Regions from separate parts of the Homo sapiens genome. Here region 2 is linked to region 1. Evidence: fine-mapped expression QTL. Tissue or cell type: nasal epithelium. Region 1 holds a variant in brackets; the other region holds the start of a gene. All regions are shown on one strand. Distances are from middle to middle.

What was found. PIP is the estimated chance that this variant, and not a neighbour inherited with it, causes the effect.
Region 2: it holds the start of M1AP, and the variant in region 1 is fine-mapped to the expression of M1AP in nasal epithelium (TOPMed, PIP 0.96).

The regions. Positions count from the first base shown.
Region 1 is chr2:74,738,823-74,747,005 of GRCh38, forward strand. All of the region lies in intron 2 of LOC102724497 (a long non-coding RNA gene), which reads left to right. Among named protein-coding and RNA genes, the nearest start is that of SEMA4F, 89 kb to the left of the region's middle. RefSeq lists an enhancer at 1,371-2,570. The variant G/A (reference allele first, on the strand shown) is at 4,200.
Region 2 is chr2:74,644,125-74,652,307 of GRCh38, forward strand. It overlaps M1AP (meiosis 1 associated protein), which reads right to left and starts at 4,206. Exons shown (of 11, transcript NM_001321739.2): 1 at 4,141-4,206.

The DNA of each region.
Region 1 (8,183 bases):
CCAGCAGAATTGCTTGAACGTGGGAGGTGAGGGCTGCAGTGGAGCAGAGATTATGCCACTGCACTGCAGCCTGGGTGACAGTGGGAGACTCCATCTCAAATGTCATATAATTCAATTTTTATAAAATTCTCGAAAATGTAAGCTAACCCTATAGTGACCAAAAGATCAGTGATTGCCTGGGAATGGAAACTGGGACAGAGAATGGCAATGAATGGCACAAGGAAACTTCTGGGGAATGGCTGTGTTTTTAAATCTTGATTTTGGTGATCATTTCATGAGTGCATGCATATGTCAAAAATTTCCAAATTGCACATCTTAATCATGAGCACTTTACTGAATATCAATTATACCTCAATAAAGCTGTTAAAAAACAACAACAAAAAAGAAGGTGTTGAGTCTGATAGGGTTGAGGCCAACTGCTACAGTACATTTGTGCAATGACAGGATTTTTGCACTGAGACACTTCCAAATGTCAGTATCTGTAGGATCTGTATGGCTTTCTTCCAGTATGATTCAATTTTCCAGATTAAGATTCTCTAGTCTCTTTGCTGGAGGATATGAACCTGATTGCCAGCATTCTTGGAAATAAGCAGGGGAAGGGTGAGGGGGTCTAACCATTCAGTGTGCAGGCTTTTACTTTCTTCTCTATTTTCAAGCCATCCCCTCACCCTCCCTTCCCCTCTTCCTGCTGTCCCCAGTCCAGTGCTTCTCTCACTACTGTTAATATTTATAGCTTCCCTTCCCCTAGAATACAGGCTTTAAACATGTTTCAATAGGACAATTATAAAAATAAAAGATTTGTTTGCAATCATTTATCTAGATGAACCCTTGGATGACAGAATCATTTGGTTATTAAGTGAAACCAGGACAGACATTTGGGGAAGGGGATGGCATTTTAACCTTTTGTGGAGCCATTCCCCATCAGACAATCCTTTGCTGCCACTGCCAGAGATAACACCAGGTAGGATGTGGCAATCCAGATCTTTTCATCTGGATGTCAGCAACAGCAAGGCAGGGGCCTGGACAGGATTCAGGTCACACAGTGTCTAGCTGGCTGGTGGAGCTTTGAGGTCTTTATAGAGAAGCTCTGCACTGAGATTATCATGAAGCCTGTGAGTGTTGGGGGTCAGCCTGAAGGCAGCATTCTCTGAGTGCTTCCAGCGGGAACTCCCTGTCGTTCGTGAAGGCAGCCGTGCTTCTAACACTGGAGTAGCAGCTACCACTTGTGAGCACTTACTGCATGCCAGGCACTGTGACAGGCACCTCTGACAAATTATTTCAATGATTTCACAACAGCACTACTGTTTTTATCCCCATTTCACAGATGAGGTGACTGAGACTCAAATAGATGCTCAAAGTCACTGAGCTAGGAAGTGTCAGACACAACCACATCCATGTGGACAGACTCCAGAGCTGGAGATTCGACCTGAATCCAAATACTGTTCTCCCCAGAACTCCAGTTGTGAGACTTTTAAGTGGAGCTTGGAGATTAAGGAACAACCCTTTTGGGGTCATTCTTGCTAGGGCTGTATGAAGACAGCAGGTGCACGCAGGCTACTGTGAAGTGCGGAACCACTTGGCTGGCAGCCTGGAATATAGAGGGGCAATCTTCTCAATGGGTTGTCAGGGCTACCACATTTTGGACTTGCTGCCAGGAGACCCAGGTTCAAGTCCCCACTCTGCTGCTATCTCACATTGTGACCTTGAGTGGTCACTAATCTCTCACTAGATACTGGGCCTCGGTAGCCTCGTCTGTTAAAGGGGATGACTCAACTTGGGTAAGTCTAAAGTTTTCTCAGCTTTAAAACGCAGGGATTCCATGTGTCACCTCTCCCAGGAATATTTGTATCTGTGGAATGAAAGACCTTTTGCTGCTGTCTCAGAGAAGTATTTATGCAGGTCAGGGGTCCTTTCCCAATGCGTTGGACTCATCCATCTGGAGGAGCTCTTCTACCGAAGGGCACTACCTTCTCACCAGGCTGTGGCAGCAGAGGGGTTAAACAGCATGCCCTGCCCTGCTCCAGGCAGAAGGGTTGTAGGACTTAATCACGTTTCAGCTTGGCTGTCGGGCTGTGAGTCACGGTTGCACTGCGATTATGTAAGCACGCAGGAATAGGTGGCATGACATATATGCTGCCAGCAGCCACGGGCCTCGCCCTTCCGAGTCACCACTACTTTTTAAGCCTTTTTTTGGATACAAGTTTCTTTGGGTTCATCTTTGGAATGGAAATGGAAGCATGATTGCAGAATAGGCAGAACAGGAATTATCCATCAATCAGAGAGAACCCAGCCCTTTAAGAGAAGCTGGAATTAGAATATGGAATTCCTGAGCCTTGAGCTGGCATAGCCGAGCCCTGGTTTATGCTCTTCCTGCCTCCCTCCTTTTTTCCCTCCTGCCTGTGTGCTCCACTTCCTCTCCTGAGACTCCCCCAAGGTAGCATCACTCCCACCAGGAGCCTCAGGCAGGAAAAATAAGGCCCAGAGAAGGGACTGTCCCTGGGGACGTGCACTGAGTGTGTGTGAGGGTGCGGGGCAGGAATAGGAGTGCCAGGAGTCTACCTCTGGAGCAATGCCTCCCACAGTATTTCTGTAGGGGAAAGGATAGAAACTCACTTCTTGGGTTCCTCCAATCACCATGCACATGTCAGTCCTTCAGCTATAAATGCAAAGGAAAGCCAGAACTGAGATTTGAGCTTTCTCACCATCTCCATGGTCAGATATCTCCACTGCCAAAGGGTTCATTCCGCCTCTGGGTTTATCTCTTTCTTCATGCTTCTTCCTGGCAGTGTCCTGTTGAAGCTTACCTTCCCATCTGTGTTTGCATCCACTCCCTAAAAACCACAAGACAAAACAAGAAAATAAAAGCCTCCTCCCCTCACTTAATCCACGGTTCTTTTTTCTTCCTGCTTACAAATTTCTTGAACTTGTATGTCTGTCCTTGCTGCTTCCACTTCTTCATCTCTCATTTGTGTCTGATGCAATAGGGCAATGAAGTGTCCTTGTGGTCCCTGGTGACCTTCTCATCGCTCAATCCCAAGGCCTTTTTTTAGTCTTCATCCAATTTAACCTCTTGGCAACATGTGACATGCTGCCAGCCAGCTGCTCCCTCTTTCTAATGCTCTCTCCTCTTGGCTTCTGTGACCCATCTCTTTACTACTCTGTCTGTTTCTCCAATGCCCTCTTCCTGGTCTCTCTTGACATCTTCTCTTCCCTGATCTGCATGCCACCTATATGGTGTACGTCCTCATGTATTTATAAGTAAGTAGGTGTTTATTTCTTGTCTCCTTCCCAAGAGGATTTAAATAGGTGGCACAAATATACACTACACTAGGGTAATAAAATAGGGAGTAAGATGCAACTGGTGGAGAATTAAGATCAAATTGGCCGGGCGCGGTGGCTCACAGCTTTAATCCCAGCACTTTGGGAGGCTTAGGCGGGAGGATCACTTGAGGTCAGGTTTGGCCAACATGGCAAAACCCCGTCTCTACTAAAAATACAAAAATTATCTGGGTGTGGTGGCGCATGCCTGTAGTCCTAGCTTCTCAGGAGGCTGAGGCAGGAGAATCGCTTGAACCTGGGAAGCAGAGGTTGCAGTGACCTGAGGTCACACTACTGCACTCCAGCCTGGATGACACAGTGAGACTCCATCTCAAAAAAAAAAAAAAAAGAGTAAGTTGTAGCCATAATAAATGAAGAAGATAAAACATTATTCCAAAAGACACTATAAAATCATTAGTCCACCCAACCAATCTGATCCTGTGACTCTCCTACCAAAAAGATTCCAATGATGCATGATTGTCCAACTCCCTATATAGCCTTTCACAGTCTAATCCCAGTGGGCTTTTCCAGGTCATTTCCTGTTTTTGAGCTTTGCTACAAGCTGATCCCTCTTCTTAAAGTGCCCCCCTGTCCACTTTCCTCTTCTTGGTGCTGCCTACTTGACAAATAGCTACTTGGTTTTTAAGACAGCTTCAACGTCACCACTTCTGTGAAGATTTCCCCTGCAAAATGTATCACTCCTTTATGGTAGCAAATAACTAAACTTCTGTAAACCTCAGTTTCTGCATCTGGGCAATGGGAATTATAATAGAACCCTAATTCATTGTGAGGATTAAATTAGACACACATGCAAAGTGCTTAATATAGCACCTGGGATGTTGCAAGCATTTACTAAATGTCAGCTAGTATTATACCTCCTT[G/A]TAAATGGAGGGAACAATAGTCCATAAGACTAAGATATGTTCCCAAGTTAATTAGGATCCAATGGTACAGTTAGCCTAGGGCGCAGGCTACTCTGTCCCTGCCATATATTCTCTCAAAAGTTCTTCTTCCTCAGTTCCTGGCTGTCCCCTTCTGGAAAATCCTTTCTAATTCCAAAGTTGATCCCCTCAAGTATAAACACTACTAGCTTGTTTAACTTTATTGGCACACATGTGAGCACAGGTGCGGTTCTTGACCGGCTTCAGCTCTAATCCTGTTGCCTCGGTCTTGCTGAGATCATTGTCTCTCTAACTCACTACTAAAAGTCTGGTCTCAACCTGTACCAGGATTGCCAAATAGATTCAGAAGTCAAGGAGAAGGCATCCCATGCCCGTAGCCAGCTGAGTAGAGGGGCTGCCAGCCCCAGCCAAGGCGTTTGCTGACCCTCAGCTCCAGGAAGGCCTGGGTGACCTTAAGTCTGGCACACGGGGCAATGAACTGTGGTAGCTGCCAGGGGTGGGTTCCTGAGGGCCACCTTCTCAGCAGCCTTCTGCCTACCCCACCTGGCAGGACATGGATGTGCGTGCAGGCCTGTGTATGTCTCTCTGTGTGCAACTCTCCTCTTTGGTGGATTCAGGGTCCTTGTGTCATTTTTCAAGGTGTCAGTCAAGAAGCATCCTTAGACTGGAGTCAGAGCCTCATGTCTTCAACCAGTAGCTGGGGAAAGCTCATAATAATTATACCAATACTAAGGCATGGCTGGTATTATCCAAAATGAGAAAAGAAGAGAGTAGGCTGAAGAGGCCAAATAGCTCCCACAAAGTCACACAGCTTGTTAGTGGTGCAGACGACAGCCCAGCTCTCCTGACCCTGGGCGTGGGTTTTTGCGTTCATGTCTCATGCCCCTGTCAGGAAAGAAAAACACACGAGGGTCCTTGGATGACCATATATGGCACCCTACAAATGAAAGCTACTGTGTTATTATCTTGCACTCGCAGTAAGTGCCTCATAAGAACATGCTTGGGATGACATACATGGATCTGCCTCAAGGAGGGAAATCTCAGACCCTGGAAAGCAGGCATTGCACATGAAAATGAAGAATGGGCTGAGTGAGCACATGGCAGCGCCGTGTTGGGTTCCAGCTCTGAGATCTCATGCAGGACTCTCTCAGCTTCTCTAGCTGTAACACGAGAGTTTGGCAGAGATCACATTAAAGTTCCCCTTAATAAGGGGTTTTCATGTGGTGTCAAATTGTTCCTCTGAAATAAGTATTAAAAAAAATTATAGTGAGCACATGGCATCTTGACTTTGTGTGGAGCTGACAAAACACTTCCCATTGTATGTTCACATGCCAAAGCATGTTTCATTTTATCTTATTTTATGTAGCACATTCTTTTTCATCCTCCATGGTAACTGAGTACTTGATTGTCCGTGGCATTTTCCCTCTGAAGTACTCCAGGTAGAACACCCATCATGTTCATGGCTGACATTTTACCACCCAAGGACCTCGAGGAGAGGACCAAGTGGGGTGGTCTCCATCATGGGACAGATAAGGACAAACCTGGAGAGAAGTGTGTGAGGCCGCAGGCACTAAAAGCTCCAGGGGTGGCAGTCAGAGAGGGCCACTGGGAGAGGTGGCACAAACTGGCTGCATGCACCTGCGTCTGGTCTGGCCCACACAGTGTTTAGAAGAAATTGAGTTGCTAAAGTTGGAAATCAGGATATTTCACATTAAAAATCAGGGTTTGGGGCTTCTGCTGAAAAATGGGCACCTTTGGCCAGTTACCTCTGTGCAGAGGGTACATACTGCCCAGTCCAGCCAGAGCCCATTCCACCTGCTCTCCTCAACACAGTCAACAGCATTTGTGGCAACTTCTCTGACTACCCAGCCTCGTGGGGGCTAAGTCGTGCTCAAGAAACTTATCAGGAATTACATTTCTCAAATGTGATGCTGCAATCTGATCCAGTTTTATTTGTGCCACAAATGGATTGCCAAAGGATGTGAGGTTTTTGCACACTTAGGTGGATCTTGTTTTCCAGATGAGGCTATGAAAGCAGAGCTTCTATGCTGGGATCACTTGTTTCATGCTAGGCACTGACTGTTCTAAGTGTTTTAACTGCCACATCACCTCATGCACGAGGGAGCTACTAATATCCCCATTTCATGCATAGAGAGACTGAAGTACAGAAAGGTAAAGCAGCTTGCTCTATGTCACACAGCCAAGAAATGGTCATACTGGGATGGGAAACTGGTAGTCAGGCTCCAGGGAACTCCAATACATGCTGCTATACCAACCATCTGGACACATAAGAGCTAGTCTGTGTTCTCATTTGTGAAGGGACTGCCAGGAATCCCTGCCTGACAGGGAGCAAGGGAGAGAATGCACATGAAAGCACTTGGTAAGTTGCAATGTGCACCATAAATGTTAGCTGTTACTGATAATTATTATAACCTGCAGGTCAGGATTCTAGCTGGGGGCCTGTGGCCGAGGCTACCCAGCTTGTCATTCTCTCTCCAGCTACAGCTCGGGCTGCAAGAAGGGGAAAGGGTGTTATTAGCACCGATTCTTGGAATTCCAACGTGGTATGAATAAGGAATCAATTACAGGCTACACTGCAGGGTGGCCGCTGAGGTGTAGGGGCTGGTTTTCAACAGCACAAAGACAAGTTTATTCCAATACCACTTCCTCCACCACAGAGTTAAGCCCACCCATGGTCCCTGCTCCGTGCTGGGAGGTCTAGGCTTGCCCACTGCCGGGGAGAACAGGTGGATTCACACGCCCTCTCCCTGAGCCGTTCCCAGGGCATCCACGGACAGGTGTGCATTTTATGGACGGCACACAGGTGCTGACCAAGTAAGAAAGTGGGCGCTGGGATCTAGTGCAGGCTCTGTTCTCAAGTTATGTGCCCTGGTGTGGGCTGCACCTGCAGGAGGAAGTGGTGCCTTTCTGTTTGAACAAAGGTGTGCCTGTGTGCCTCTGGGGTGTGTACTCAACTGGTCTGCCCAAAGGAGGCACCATTTTTTGTTCATGCAAAGGCTCCACCTGGGCTAGTGGAGGCCGTGGTTGTGCACCTGAAGGAGGCAGACAACAGACTTCTTGCTGCTCAGGAACCCACCCTTACACCCAGCTCCTGATTCCTCATCGAGGCCTATGCTCTCCTCCTCTGCAGGCTCACAGTTCTGTCCAGTCCATATTCTGCCATGACTTTGTGTCATTCATTTCCCCCACCCCCCTACAACCTCTTCTGATCCATGACAAGGTGGCCTAGGGCCAACTCCAAGATCCAAGGCCTGAACCCCATTTGCTGTCCCTTTGGCCTCTGTCCTGGGTTCCTTTCCTGGTAATCTCCTAATACCCCCACCTCACTGCCTGTATCTACTAGTTCCCCAGCCACAGGCCAGAGAATTCTCCTAAATCCTGGAGCAAAACTGCAGATTCCTGGCTATAGATAACCTGCCTGACCAGACTTCCAAGTGCCACTATGATAATATTGCCTGATGCTGCACTCCACCCACCTGTGAGTCTAACCAGCCTGGTCCCCCACTGTTCACTGTTTGCTTCCACCAGAGCTGGGGATTGCCTGTGACTGTGACATCAGCCTGTCCTGCCTGGCTGAGTGTCTGGGATTAGGTTGGGCCAGCAGGTCACTTTCCTCAGGACCATCACACCCTAAGGGTGAAATTGGGCTTGCTTCAGACCTTCCTATCTTGTGACTGGACTGTCTTGTGATTGAATAAACTGTCGTGCTCAGACAAGTCCAGAGGGATGACACAGTGGAATGTTGTTCGTTACCTGGGTCTGTCTGAATATTCCCAGAACACAGAAGGTGCTCAATACATAGATTCTGAACCTTGTTGGCTGTCGCTGCTGCAGCCATTTTTACCTGAAAGGTGATTTAGAATTTCTGCAGGTGAATGTGGTGGTGGTTGCAGGGAGTTAAAAAATTCTCCCTCTTCCTACTGAGATGCACACATGCCCCCTTAG
Region 2 (8,183 bases), 95 kb before region 1:
TTTTAGCTAAAGAATGTAGGGAAAATTAAAGCTTATTTGATTTCCCCTGTGACAATACAAAGATAATTATGATAATTTTCAGAAACACTTTGGAATTTAGAATCTTTAAAAATGATCTAAGAATACATAGATAGGCCGGGCGCAGTGGCTCACGCCTGTAATCCGAGCACTTTGAGAGGCTGAGGCGGGTGGATCTCAAGGTCAGGAGTTTGAGACCAGCCTGACCAACATGGTAAAACCCCATCTCTACTAAAAATACAAAAATTAGCCGGGCGTGGTAGCACGCGCTTGTAATCCCAGCTACTCAGGAGACTGAGGCAGGAGAATCGCTGGAACCCAGGAGGCGGAGGTTGCAGTGAGCCAAGATCGCGCCATTGCACTCCAGCCTGGGTGACAGCGCGAGACCCCGTCTCAAAAAAAAAAAAAAAAATACATAGATAGATGTATTTCCCCAAATGAATCAGTGAAGTTATTCTCTTCAAACTTCCCTTTTTGGATAGTGGAAGTCAGCATTTGTTCATTCAACATTTTTAAAAATTGAGTTCCAATTACGTGCTGGATACAGCTAGAAAAATAAATGAATTAATATGCTAATCTGTTGAAAGTCATCTTGAACCAGAAACCCAAATCAATTACTAATGTATTTACCAAGAAAGCACATAACATATTTTTAAACTGTACTTTAAGTACATGGGGCCAATTTCTACATGGAATGCTGAACTTGAAGCTGACACAGAGAAATTCACACAAACAGGTAGTCAGAGGCCTTATTTAATGTATAATTAAATTTAATTATCCATCTCCATCTCTCACATCTGAAAACGCCATTTTAAAGTAGAGGCAGGACAACCTGCTCAGGTCCCCTTCCACACTGTGGAAGCTTTGTTCTTTCGCTCTTTGCAATAAATCTTGCCGCTGCTCACTTTTTGGGTCCGCACTGCCTTTATGAGCTGTAATACTCACCGTGAAGGTCTGCAGCTTCGCTCCTGAGGCCAGGGAGACCACAAACCCACCGGGAGGAATGAAAAACTCCACACACGCCGCCTTAAGAGCTGTAACACTCACTGCAAAGGTCTGCAGCTTCACTCCTGAAGCCAGCGAGACCATGAATCCACCAGAAGGAAGAAACTCCAGACACATCCGAACATCAGAAGGAACAAACTCCGGACACACCATCTTTAAGAACTGTAACACCGCCAGGGTCCGCGGCTTCATTCTTGAAGTCAGCAAGACCAAGAACCCACCAATTCTGGACACAGTATTGCTGGGCCATAAGGCACGTATGAGTTTAGTTTTGATAGTGAGGTAGGAGGCGGGACTCAACTCTGCAGGAAGGGCTTGGACACCAGACCAAATTGAGGACTAGCTTAAACAGGGCGAGGGTGGAAGCAGCTTTCCATAAGACATGCCCACCAGTGTGCCCTGTCAGTTTACCATTGCCATGGCAACACTCAGAAGTTACCATCCCTTTCTATAGCAACGACTCTATGACCTGGAAGTTACCATGCTTTTCCTAGAAATTTCTGCATCAACTCCCCCTTAATTTGCATGTAATTAAAACTGGGTATAACTATGACTGCTGAACTACCTCTGAGCTGCTATTCTGGGCACACTGCCTATGGGGTAGCCCTGCTCCACAGTTGCAGTACCTCTGCTGCTGCTGTACACTGCTGCTTTAATAAAAGTTGCTGTTTAACATCACCAGCTCACCCTTGAAAAAAATAAAAATAAAAAAATAAAGTAGAGGCAGTCCTCATTTTGCATGGTTCAAGTATATAGATTTCAGTTACTACAGTTTAGTTAATTAACACTAGTCTTCCAACAACACAGTTCAAATTTCAGTTACCATGGAATATTAACTGTAATTACATAAAGTAGTATCTAGCTCTTTAGTTCACGAATTACTAGTTATCAGTATCAATAGTATAGTATACTGATATAGCGTACTGATATAATATAGTGATCAGTGCATCATGATCAGTAATTAATTATATCACTTCTTTCAAAGTCTGTTGGTGACCCGTCACTGCAGATCCATTAGTCAGTTAAAGCACAGACAGAAGTGTGTAGTTGTGTCGCCTCCTTGTCTCCTAGTGATAAGCCCATGTGATGTTTTATAAAAACAAAAACTGAAAGAGGAAACTAGCCGATAAAAGGAGCAGCAAAGAAATAAAAAATGATAATGCCAGGAGTGAAATCTGAATCTAACATAAGTGGAGTTAAAGGAGAAACAGCTGACTATGAGAGTGTTGACACTGCCTCCACCTGATAGACTCTAGAGAAGCAGCCAGAGGAATTTAGTGAAGGCAAACTTATCAACATACTTGAGGAAAGTCATTGTGATGAAAAGGATGAAGACATCCTACAGAAAGGGCCACTGGCAAAAAGCTTCATTATTAAAGAAACTTTCAGAGATATTTTACAAAATTGAAGGTACAAAGGATAAAATGTAGGAAACTAACCCAAACTTAGAAAGAAGTATGTCAGTTTGCCAAGACACACAAAAAATGTTTGCTCTCTCATAAGTTTTACTATGAGAGTTTTTTTTCAACAAATAAAACACTTTAGCTCTCAATGTTTCTAATGTTTTAAGTTAGTGTATGAAATAGTTTTACTGTTTTACATTTCCCTATACAGTTAGTAAGAAAGTTTTAGTGTTTTGACAATTTTTCAAGGTTATAGAACAACTGTAATTTTTCCCATTGGTGTTTAAGATCTCTTTGAATGGTTTCAGCTTGCAGTCATTTTTCAATCCCACACTAATGTGCAATTGGAAGACTGTATTTTAAATGAGGTAAGAGGCAGCTCTCTTCCTTACATCCTCAAACATCATCAATTCATGCATCTGATGTGTCTGGGCATAGTACTAAACAGGCTCTGACCTTATTCTGACCCTATACTCTCCACTTTTGCCAAGAACACTCGCTTAATGAATTCTCCCTGCAAACTGGTTAAAACTGGAACTGGGCCTTGAACCACTCCAAACCACCAAGTTATGCCCAAACTAAAAACCCTCCAAGGACTTCCAATTACACCACTGGAAACAGAATCCAATATCTTTACCCTGGCCCTAAAGTTCTGCTTGTGCCTTCTGCCCAACTCTCCATCCTCACACTAGGCCCTCCCCTGCCCGCACCCCGGGAGATCCACCTCTCACAGATCGGCTTCTCGCTGTGTCTGCCTCTGCGGATGTTCTGTTCCGTGCTGAGCATTCTAGGTTAGGGCCCCTTTACAAGCCCTCATTCACTTTGTCGCGTGATAAACGATTCAATGGTTCTCCCTCTGGCAGGGCCCTATTAAAGATTTCGTGGGCCCTAAGGCACTTTCGTCTTCGTGGACCCCTTCCTCCATTAAAAAAAGATTAAAAGAAGTTAATGGATTTTGTAGGCCCTAAAAATCTCATTTCCCCCTCCTGATGTGAGAAAAAAATCAAAACACTTTCTTTGACTTCATGGGTTCACTTTAAACGAAATGAAAACATTCTCGTGGCCGGGCACGGTGGCTCACGCCTGTAATCGCAGCACTTTAGGAGGCCGAGGCGGGCGGATCACGAGGTCAGGAGTTCGAGAGCAGCCTGGCCAACATAGGGAAACCATGTCTCTACTAAAAATATAAAAAAATTAGCCAGGCGTGGTGGCGGGAGCCTGTAATTCCAGCTTACTCGAGAAGCTGAGGCGGAGAATCACTTGAACCCGGGAGGCGGAGGTTGCAGTGAGCCGAGATCACGCCATTGCACTCCAGCTTGGGCAACAAGGGTGAAACTCCGTCTCAAAAACAAAGCAAAACCAGAAGAAAAAAAATTCTCGTGGCTCCCTGAAGCCTCCGTGGTCCCTCGGCATGGCGCCTACCGTGCCTGGCGGATCAGCAGCCCGGCCCTCGGGCCTGGGGGCCCCGCGGAGGAAGCTCCGGGCCCAGACTCCGCGCAGGCCTGGCCGCCCAGAACAGTATGCGGAGGGATGACTCCGACAGCGATTTCGGAGCCTCTCTCGGCGTCAGTCTTGCGCCGGCACCCGCCACGGCCAGCGCAACCAACACCTGCCTGAGGACTGGCCCGAGCTCGGCCCACGCCCAGCCCAGCCTGCGAAGTGGTGCCGGCTGCTCTCGGGCTGCCCTCCCTCCCCGAGGCGTGGAGAACCGTACCTGTCTTCGGAAGACGGAGGCCCCCTCACCTGGTCCTCCCGGCTCTCAGCGTGCGCCCGCGCGTTCGGAGGCGCCCCCCTCAGGCCGGCGCGGCTGGGCGGGAGGCTCACTGCGGGCAAGGCGGGGCCTGGCTGCCTCAGGGTGCGCTTCAGGTGGCGCTTCAGGAAAACGGTCTCCAAGTCCCTAGATACCCTGAGAACAGTCCTTCTTTGTCCCTTAGGTAGAATTTTGTCTATTTGTTGGAAATGCTGTGCTAAACCTGACATTTTTCTTTTTCTACCCCTTCCCATGAAACATGCCAGTAGCTCCCCCACCGACCGTTTTCTTGGTTTTAACTTTTCCCTTCCACATCATTTCCTTCAGCCAGTCGCTATTTTGTTCACTAAACATCTGTGGTGGGCACGTTATGTGCCACGCATTGTGCTAGGATTGGAGTACAGTGGATGTACAGACAATGGTCACTGCCCTCATGGAAGTTATAGCTGCCTTCACAAAGTTCTTTTAAGTCTTTTCAAACTCCTGTATTCCAAGAGGGTCTGTCGCTCTCTTCATACTCATTCTCGCTTACTTGAGGTTGATTCCCATAGTCCCTTTGACGAACTCCAGATGGGGTAGGAGCGTCCTGGTCCTTAACAGTTGGTTGGTCTGGGTCTTCAACTCTGGTTAAAAAGGAATTCTCTGAATTAGTCCACAGGAGAGGGAAAGATAATGCTAGTTCCAAGCTAGAAATGTACAAGCAGTTTTCCTTGTTTTCTTTATTATTATTATTGTTATTTTCTCAGTTCATTGTCTAGATGCAGGTTGGAGGTGGGGTGGGGCAATATTTCAATGAGTGGCACAGGATAGGTTAGATGTTTCAACAGGAAAAGAGTTGCCTGCTTGTATTCTAGTCCCACTAAACCATTTTGCTCCTATCAACTGTTCCTCAGGTAAGAACAGAACTATTTAACCTATGTCCTTTTTTAAACACTATAATCTGATATTCAATAGAGTTCCTGTGTTTCAGTTTAAAGGGTAGCTTCTCAACAGCTCTTTCCCCCCATATAGTCCAAATTAGCCTTTCTGTCTCTAATCTCCAGATTATCGTTTCCACTGATGTTAGAATTGTCCTTGTAAAAATATTTTGATCATATCATTCTTTGTCTTAAAAATGGCTTATGTTTCCTTTTCGGTTAGAGGGTCCATTATAACTGACCCCACCTACCTTACTAGGCTCAACCCCAGCATTACCTGTCTTACTCCCCTTTGTGTTGCTATACCAGAATACCACAGAACAACTAACTTGTAAATAAAGGAAATGTATTCTTAAATTCTGGAGGGTAGGAATTCCAAGGTTGAGAATCCCACATCTAGTGAGGGCATTTTTTCTGTGTCATCCCATGGCAGAAGGCAGAAGGGCAAGGGGTACAAAAGAGCAAGACAGCAATAGGGAGCTGAACTCACTTTTACAACAAACCCACTCTCTCAATAACTAACTCATTTCCAAGATAATGACATTAATTCATTTATGGGGGCAGAGCCCTTATGGCCTAATCACCTCTTGTTAGGCCCCACCTCTGAACACTATTCCATTGGGTACTAAGTTTCCAGCAAATGAACTTTGGGGGACGCATTCAAACTTGAGCACTAGCCTCACTCCAAACCATACCACCCATTGCTCCTACCTACTATTAATTTCTTTCCGTACCCTCTATAGCATTTATTAAAAATATGCAAAGAACTGTACCAGAAATGGGGACTATGACATAAGAATTGTTTTCTGAGGGTGATAAACTATAATGGTCATGAGAAAGCACCTTGCAGACTTTAAACTACAAGGAGTGTAACTGACCAAGGGCATCAGCTGCTGCCTTAGAAATCTACTGCCACGACTGGGCTCCGTGGTTCACGCCTGTAATCCCAGCACTTTGGGAGGCCGAGGCGGGTGGATCACCTGAGGTCAGGAGTTCGAGACCAGCCTGACCAACATGGAGAAACCCCATCTCTACTAAAAATCCAAAATTAGCCGGGCATGGTGGTGCATGCCTGTAATCCCAGCTACTCGGAAGGCTGAGGCAGGAGAAACACTTGAACCCGGGAGGCAGAGGTTGCGGTGAGCCAAGATTGCACCACTGCATTCCAGCCTGGGCAACAAGAGCAAAAACTCTGTCTCAAAAAAAAAAAAAGAAAGAAAAAAGAAATCTGCCACATTTGCATGGAGGCCATCTTCCCAGCCACTGACTGAATGTGGTGGAGATACTAAGGCAGACCCATTCCTGGGAAACACTGCACTTCTCACACAGCACTCCTCACACAGCACTCCTCTAATGGGCAACATTGGCTTGATGATTCCCCAACAGTCTTGCTGAACTATACTCCAGTATGGAGTATAGTATGTGGAAGAGGAGTGTCAAAGATGAAGCAGGAGAGATAGGCAAAGGGCCAGAACATATACGATCTGTGGACTATATTAAAGATTTCGGATCTTATCTCATAGCAAAGGCGGGGTGGGCTGGAATGGGGAGATAAACTGAAGTGTTTAAGCAGAAGAGTGACATGATCTGATTTGTGTACTGGAGAGAACATTCTCCCTGCCTCCCTGCCTTAAAAGGAATGGATTGGGGGCTGAAATTGGGGTGGTGGCAGCAGGGCATAGGGACAAGACAAGAGTAGGAAGGAGCCCAGGCAAGAGAAGATAGTTGTTTGAATTAGGGTATTGGCAGAGGGGATGCGGAGATGTGGGAGGAAGTATTTAGGAGTTAAAATTAACAGGCCTTTATGATTGATTTGATTAAGAGGAATCCAAAATGACAGGGCCTAGAACATAGTAGGCATTCAATGAATACTTATTGAATAAACAAATGCAAAGTCTCTGGCTTAGACAGCTGGAAAGACAGTAGTGCTATGGGGAACATTGGTTTTAGCATCCACACAATTACCAGGATGCTATGAGGGTGGGGACGATAGTTCAGTTTTGGACATATTGAAATCAAGGTGCCTGTGGTTACACTGTGTGGAAATGTCCACTAGGCACTTGGATGTGTGTGTCAGAAGCTGAAGAGAAAGATATGGCCTAGAAATGTAGATTTAGAAAATCATTATTAACTAAATTAGTATGAATGAGACTACATAGAACAGTGATTTTTTTTTTCAAAGTGGGGATCTCAACTCATTAATGAATAGTAAAATCAATTTAGTGGGCTGCAACCAGCATTTAAAAAAATGGAATAGAATAAAATGCAACATGATAGGGAAAAAAATGAGAATTTAGCTCCTGAAGTAAAGATAAATATAATGTAAGTATGACTTTGTTAAAAATTTAACTCACTAATATGTACATTGGGTACATGAATGCATGTACTTAAGTGCAATTAGGTTGCACAATAAGAACCTCTTATTGTATGTTTTGTGAAAAAAATTGAAAAAATATTAAAAAAATCAAAAGACAACCAATAAGTCATGTTCAGAGAAGGGACTAAGGCCTAGACTAGACTGCTGAGAAGCAGCTTAGGAAAGGCATATAGTGGGCTAGAGGAAGAAACTCAGACGGGGGGCAGGGGTTCCATTGTGTTGAGGTTGGTTTTAGAAAGAAGATTTCAGAGAGAAGATTAGAAGTACTGATCCCAAATGCCTGATTTTCCCTCTAGGCTAAGCAATTTGAATTCAAGGACAATGGCTTTTTTTTTTTGGCAGGCTAGAGTGCAATGGTGTGATCGTAGCTCCCTGCAGCCTTGAACTCCTGGGCTCAAGTGATCCTCCTGCTTCAGTCTCCCAAGTAGCTGAGACTACAGGTGTGTGCCACCAGGCCTTGCTATTATTATTATTTTGCAGAGACAGGGTCTTGCTATGTTGACGTGGCTGGTCTCGAACTCGTCTTCAAGTGATCCTCCTGCCTCAGCCTCCCAAAGTGCTAGGATTACAGGCATGAGCCACCATGCCCAGCCAACGGACCATGTCTTAATCTTATCTCTAGTACTTAGTAAAATGCCTGGCACATATTAGGCCCTTAATAACTGTTGAAAGAACAAACTAGAACTAGTACTTGCACTTTAGAAAGATTATCC